Linked DNA regions of Homo sapiens. The protein of the gene in region 1 purifies or fractionates together with the protein of each later gene. This does not show direct contact. Each region holds a gene or a part of one and is shown in the gene's direction. Other genes may lie near its edges.

The links. The genes of interacting proteins can lie anywhere in the genome.
Region 2: the proteins of ITIH2 (region 1) and TMEM184B fractionate together in Homo sapiens (co-fractionation; one large-scale study listed by BioGRID). This does not show direct contact.

The regions. Positions count from the first base shown.
Region 1 is NC_000010.11:7,741,316-7,744,815, forward strand, and holds part of ITIH2 (inter-alpha-trypsin inhibitor heavy chain H2 precursor), read left to right. Parts: intron 1-1,830; coding exon 1,831-1,944; intron 1,945-2,766; coding exon 2,767-2,965; intron 2,966-3,475; coding exon 3,476-3,500. UniProt on the Homo sapiens protein: May act as a carrier of hyaluronan in serum or as a binding protein between hyaluronan and other matrix protein, including those on cell surfaces in tissues to regulate the localization, synthesis and degradation of hyaluronan which are essential to cells undergoing biological processes.
Region 2 is NC_000022.11:38,242,011-38,245,510, reverse strand, and holds part of TMEM184B (transmembrane protein 184B), read left to right. Parts: intron 1-3,500. UniProt on the Homo sapiens protein: May activate the MAP kinase signaling pathway.

The DNA.
Region 1 (3,500 bases):
TTACTGGTGCCCGCCACCACACCCGGCTAATTTTTTGTATTTTTAGTAGAGGCGGGGTTTCACTATGCTGGCCAGGCTGGTCTCGAATGCCTGACCTCGTGATCCACCCGCCTCAGCCTCCCAAAGTGCTGGGATTACAGGCGTGAGCCACCGCACCTGGCCTGTTCTGTGTTTTTACAATGCCCTGTAGTGTCTGGCTCCAAGAACAATCAACTAACCATGTATTTGTGGACTGCAGAGCATGAACCTGGAGGTGTGAACTGAACATTTCTGGCCTGAGTGACTGCTTTAGCCACTGCACAAGCTTCCTGTAACTCCTCTGCAAACTTTTAGTAACACTGCCACCAACAACTTTCCTAAAATGAGGGTCAAGTCACATTTATTCTCAGAAACCTTTAATAGCTGCTCAACAGAATAAAGGCCCATTCTTGGTGTTTCAGGGTCTCTGTGATCTCTACTTTTAGCTCTTTTTCTCTGCATTCTTCAAGAACCTGTCCTCTGGTCGCATTGAGTTATTTTCTAAAGAAATCATAAACTCTTCTACCTCCACTCCTTCCTCATTCTGTACACTCAGAATAAAATCTCTTCCTCCTTAGCCTTTTGTCTTTCCCCGCTGTCCTCTGACCTTAAAGACAGTTCAGAAGCCACCTCCTCCATTCAGCCTTGCTGTTTGCCTGGGGGGCACTAATCATTTTCATCTTCATTCTCACAGCATTTTACTTGAGCCACTATTGCACCATGTACTTCATTCTATCTTACATTCGTGATTATGTCTGCCCCTTGCACTAAAGTATTACTTTCTTGAAGTTACTGACCATGACTTATGTTTATAGTTAACACCAAACATTGCCAAATTTAGTGATTGCACATAGATTTTTTTTTTCCTTCACCAAGTATTTGTTGAATGGTTAAATGGGAAAGAGCGGGAGAGGGAGAGTGGGGATGGGGGAGCGGGAGGGGAGGGGAAGCAAGGAAGGATTATCTAAAATAATTAGGTTCAATAACAAAGGAGTACTTTCTTGGGAGTAGCTTGATTCTTCATTGCTTTTGGAATTGAATCATATTAATCTGTATGTCAACAATAATAGTGTGTCTCCTTTGTTTTCCTGCATTGTATATGGCTCCTTAAAAAATATATCTCCAGGCTGGGTGAGGCGGCTCACACCTTTAATCCCAGGACTTTGAGAGGCTGAGATGGGTGGATCACTTGAGTTCAGGAGTTTGACACTAGCCTGGGAAACAAAGTGAGACCCCCCATCTCTACAAAAAATACAAAACATTAGCTAGACATGGTGGCACATGGATGTTGCCCCAGCTACTCAGGAGGCTGAGCTGGGAGGATGACTTGAGCCTTGGAGGTCAAGGCTGCAGTGAGCCATGATTGCAACATTGCACTCCAGCCTGGGTGACAGAGGGAGATCCTGTCTCAAAAAACACCCAACTCTATTTTTCTGTCTACACACATATTCACACACGTGTATGTATGTTTCTTATATTTGTGGGTGCATATTTGTGTGTATTTCTTATTCCTTAAGTCTTTCTTATTCATTTTTTATCTCTAGTATCTAGTCTAGTGCATACATTTTTAGCTACAAAATAAATATCCACTATATTTGTAAAATAACATAGGGTTCTGAAGAAGGCTCCGTGACAAAGGGACAATGGAGTATGAACCACTGGGTCCCCAAGACCTGGAGGAGTACCGAGCATGTAGGAGAAGCACAATAAATATTTGTTCTGATTAAATTAAAGATGTTCAGGAATGACATAGTGCTCAAAATCATCTTCCTTTTAATGATTTTGTTTACGTTTTCTTTGTATATTTTCCAGTTGAAAATGACCCACATTTCATCATTTATCTACCAAAAAGCCAAAAGAACATTTGTTTCAATATTGACTCAGAACCTGGAAAAATCCTCAACCTGGTTTCTGACCCAGAATCAGGTAAAATAAAAATAAATTATATTTGCACCAATTAGGTCATTGTCATGCTTTCCTGTCACTGCCTGGGATTTCTTTCTTTCTCAGCTTAATAGAAGTTCTATATATTTCAGTGATATTAGTGAGAAATTAAATTATAAATATATTCTTAACTATTTTGAACCATTATAGTTCAAAATATATACTCTGAGTATGAACTTGCAGATCTTGTTGTGATATAATTAATTTAAATATGAGCCAGGAACGGTGGCTTACACATGCAATCCCAGCACTTTGGGAGGCCGAGGTGGGCGGATCATCTGAGGTCAAGAGTTCGAGACCAGCCTGGTCAAAATGATGAAACCCCACCCCCCACTACTAAAAATACAAAAACAATTACCCAGGCGTGGTGGTACACACCTGTAATCCCAGCTACTCAGGAGGCTGAGGCAGGAGAATTGCTTGAACCCGGGAGGTGGAGGTTGCAGTGAGCCAAGATCACACCATTGCGCTCCAGCCTGAGTGACAGAGTAAGACTCCGTCTCAAAAACAACAACAAAAAATTTAAATACTATATGATAGTCAATTATTTAAATTTTATAAACTGACAATTAAATTTTATAACTGATATAAAATTATTAAATTAAATTTTATTAAAATTTATAAATGTTATATTAACATGTTATAAAATGAGAATCACAAAGAAGAAAATGTTAATGTAAATCTTGAAGCAAAATTATAATAATTTTCCAATATTGCCAAGTTTTTATAAATTTGAATTATAGTACCCACACATGCAAAATAAATGGCACAGAAGAGAAAACATCATTTTTTTCTTTCCTGTAGGAATTGTAGTCAACGGTCAGCTTGTTGGTGCCAAGAAGCCCAACAATGGAAAACTAAGCACCTATTTTGGAAAACTGGGATTTTATTTCCAAAGTGAAGACATAAAAATAGAAATCAGCACTGAGACCATCACCCTGAGCCATGGTTCTAGCACATTCTCCTTGTCCTGGTCCGACACGGCTCAAGTCACGAATCAGAGGCAAGTATGATTCCATCTGAACTTGGGCCTGTCCGTGACACACGACTGCATAAATAAATCCAGGCATCAGTGACATCAACATTGAAAAAAAATCATCATTTTAAATATAAGGAAGTTGAGGTTCAGAAAAATTGTTCTCACTCCCTACTCTGTTCCTGGCAGTGGGCACTGTGTGTTTTTGGTCACCGTTGGGTCCCAGGACCTAGTCCAGTGCCTGGCATCAGTAAACACTCACTGTGTATGTGCTAATCAGTGAACAAATCCACCAGCTGAAATCCATACTGACTCTATCGCAGAGTGAGCTCCAAACGCCATGATTGTGTCCTCTGCGTAGAAGCTTCCCAATGAGTTTCTGTTAATCCATCATTTATCTATAAACTGTTGCAAGCGCTTAGATAACTAGCGGAATTGTCTGGGAGGAGTGAAGAGTTCATATTAGGGGTGAGAAGAATGACTTTCTCAAAAGGTCTGTTCTGGAATGGTTTAATTCCTCTTGGACTTTCACACCAGGGTGCAGATCTCAGTGAAGAAAGAA
Region 2 (3,500 bases), on another chromosome or scaffold:
TCAGACAGGTACCTGGAAGCAAGGGCCCTCCCCCTGGGTCTCGCTTCTTAGTGCTGGCGTCTCAGGCAGGTACCTGGAAGCAAGGGCCCTCCCCCTGGGTCTCGCTTCTCAATGCTGGCGTCTCAGGCAGGTACCTGGAAGCAAGGGCCCTCCACCTGGGTCTCGCTTCTCAATGCTGGCGTCTCAGGCAGGTACCTGGAAGCAAGGGCCCTCCCCCTGGGTCTCGCTTCTCAATGCTGGCGTCTCAGGCAGGGTGGGGGCAGCAAGCAAGTGGTCTGTTTGTAGAGACCCCAGGTGGCCCCAGGTGCAGTTGGGTAGGGACCCTTCCAGGGATCCCTGGCAAGTCAGTGGCAGGGCTGGGGCTCTGTCCCCATGGGTCTTAATTCTGAGGGCTTTGTCCCACGAGTGGGTGCCCTACTGTGCCACCCAGGAAGAAGACTCGATTCCTTCCGGGGACTTGGTTCTGGATGTGGAGTGGAGACATCACCTGCTCCCATCCTGAGCTCCGACCACAGGCCAGGAGCTGGGTTGCCAAGAGGAGAAGCCAGCCTCACCCCTGCTGCCCTGCGGGAGGCTGTGGCCCCTAAACAGTCACCACAAGGAGACCAGGATGCTGCTCTCATGGGAGCTGGCCTCTGACCTGTCTTGGGCAGGTCCCAGGCATTCCTCATCTGTTAGAGGCCAGCAATGCCCAGGTCTGCCCTAGACAGGCCAGCAGGAATGGAGAGGAGGGGTTCCTCAAGACCCCTGCATTGGGCTGGGTGCAGTGGCTCACGCCTGAAATCCCATTACTTTGGGAGGCCGAGGCGGGCAGATCACCTGAAGTCGGGAGTTCGAGACCAGCCTGACCAACATGGAGAAACCCCGTCTCTACTAAAAATACAAAATTATCCGGGCATAATGGTGCATGCCTGTAATTCCAGCTACTCAGGAGGCTGAGGCAGGAGAATCACTTGAACCTGGGAGGCAGAGGTTGTGGTGAGCTGAGGTCGTGCCATTGCACTCCAGCCTGGGCAACAAGAGCGAAACTCTGTCTCAAAAAAAAAAAAAGACCCCTACATTGATACCCATGCTATTCTCAGAGTGTGAGGTTTCCTGTCTCCTACCCACACCTGTGCTGCTGGTTTTAGGTAAAGTGACCGGATGTGGTTTTCCTAATCTCAGGCAGAGCAGCTCTGGCCATGCCCAGAAGTTGTCTGTTTCCTTGACCTGGGAGGGTGCTGCCCCAGGCCTGCACTCTGTGGATATTGGAGTGAAGCATGCTCATCCCCCAAGCAGCTGGAGTCTCTCTTCCTCTCCACGTTGAAACTTGTGTATCCCTGAGAACTCATAGGGCACAGGAAATGCCTTTAGGTTTGGCAAGAAAATGGAGGCGCCCAACAGGAGCCCATTGCACCCCAGCCTTTCATATTTCTGCCTTCCCACCCCCAACTGCGGCCACATCAGGCAGGTGCTTCCCAGCCTCAAGGGCTTGATACGTGCTGTGTCCCCGGCCTGGGAAGCTCTTCTGCTCTGCGTGGGGTCCCTCCTTTCCATCCGTCTGTTCCCCGCCACTCTCACTCCCAGCACCCATCCAGGTCCTCGGCCCCACCACAGTCTGCAGCTCCCTTGCTTCGTGTTCCATCTTCCTGAGCATGATTAGCCCTGCCAGAGCAGGATGGGGTGCAGCCATGCCCAGACAGAGCCGGGCCCATGGGAGATGCCTACTTCCTCCCTTTTGGATGAATAAGGGACTTAATCAAACCCCTGCCCTGTGCCTTGCATTCCTCCATGTGGGGCCTCAGTAACATCCCATGCTCCCTCCTCGCAGGCTGGCGTTCCATCCTGTCCTTCCAGATGAGAATACTGAGGCCAGATGGGGACCTGCTCAGGGCTTAACTGGGGCTCTGGTGTCTGATATTTCTGGAAGCAGCCAAGTCTCCAGGGAAACCTCTGGGTCCCTGGGGCACCATAAAGGCTGGAATTGGCGAAGTGTGGGGCTGAGAATCCACTTCCATTCAGCTGCCAGCCTCGCATGGGTACCCAGGGGCAGCCTCTGCCCACCTGTTCCTTCAGAAGCACAAAGCTGTTCCCTGCCAAGGTGGCCTCTCCTGTGTGGTCGGGGGACAAGTGTGGGCTCTCTTCTCGGCGGGACCCCAAAGACAGGCGCATGGCAGAAGGCGGGGCACACAGCCAGGGGAGCCTCCGCTTCACTCTCACTCCGTGCCCCAGAGGCGGCAGCAGATGGCTGGCGGGCACCCCTCACTCCAGAAGCCTCTTTGTTCAGGCCCCGCCTGCCCTGACCTGCCTCCCTGCCCGGGGAGAGGTCCTCCAGGAAGTCGGCCACCCTGTGAAGCACATCTCCTAGCAACGCGATTATCCCTTTGGCCTGGCCTCTCCCAGGGAGTTTACAAACAGTACAGCAGCTGCAGTGAAGTTCAGGCTGCCCCCGAGTTCACCAGCTTTTTTTTTTTTTTTTTTTTGAGACCGTTGCCAGGCTGGAGTGCAGTGGGGCAATCTCAGCTCACTGCATTCTCCACCTCCTAGGTTCAAGTGATTCCCCTGCCTCAGCCTCCCGAGTAGCTGGGACTACAGGCGTGTGCTACCACGCCCAGCTAATTTTTGTATTTTTAGTAGAGACGGGGTTTCACCATGTTGGCCAGGATGGTCTTGATCTCTTGACCTTGTGATCTGCCCGCCTTGGCCTCCCAAAGTGGTGGGATTACAGATGTGAGCCACCGTGCCTGGCCAAGTTCACCAGCTTTTAGCATCAGAGGCAGCGGGGCCTGCTCCTTGCCTTGTCCCTGCACCACTGCTCTGGGTCCTAGCCCCTCTCTTGCAGCTGCCTCTGCAGAGTCAGTGATGGGGCAGTCCCCCCCGATCCTTGTATTTCCCCTCTCACCCTTCCTTCTCAGTGCCCAAGAGGGGCCAGGAGGGCCCAGGAGGGAGTGGGATTCACCTGGGCTGGAGAACTCTGCAGATCCAGCCAGCCCTTCCTGAGGACCTGCTCAGAGCTGAGCACTACGGTCATTTGCTTTTTTTCTTTTTTTTTTAGAGACGGAGTCTCGCTCTGTCGCCCAGGCTGGAGTGCAATGGTGCAATCTTGGCTCACTGCAACCTCCTCCTCCTGGGTTCAAGCAATTCTCCTGCCTCAGCCTCTCGAGTAGCTGGGACTACAGGCACACGCCTTCACGCCCGGCTAATTTTTTTTTTTTTTTTGTATTTTAGTAGAGACGGGGTTTCACCGTGTTGCCTAGGCTGGTCTTGAACTCCTGAGCTCAGGCAATCCGCCCGCCTTGGCCTCCCAAAGTGCTGGGATTACAGGCGTGAGCCACCAAGCCTGGCCCTGCTTTTTTTCTTTGTTAACAAAATTCTGCTTTTAAAAAACACTAAAAAAAATTACATTTATTAAAGTAATATAGGCATATGGTTGAAACACGAAACTCCCCTAACTCCTCACTCTGAAGTTCACTGTACTTTCAACTCTTTCAGCTGTTTTCTTCCTAGAATGACCTAAAATA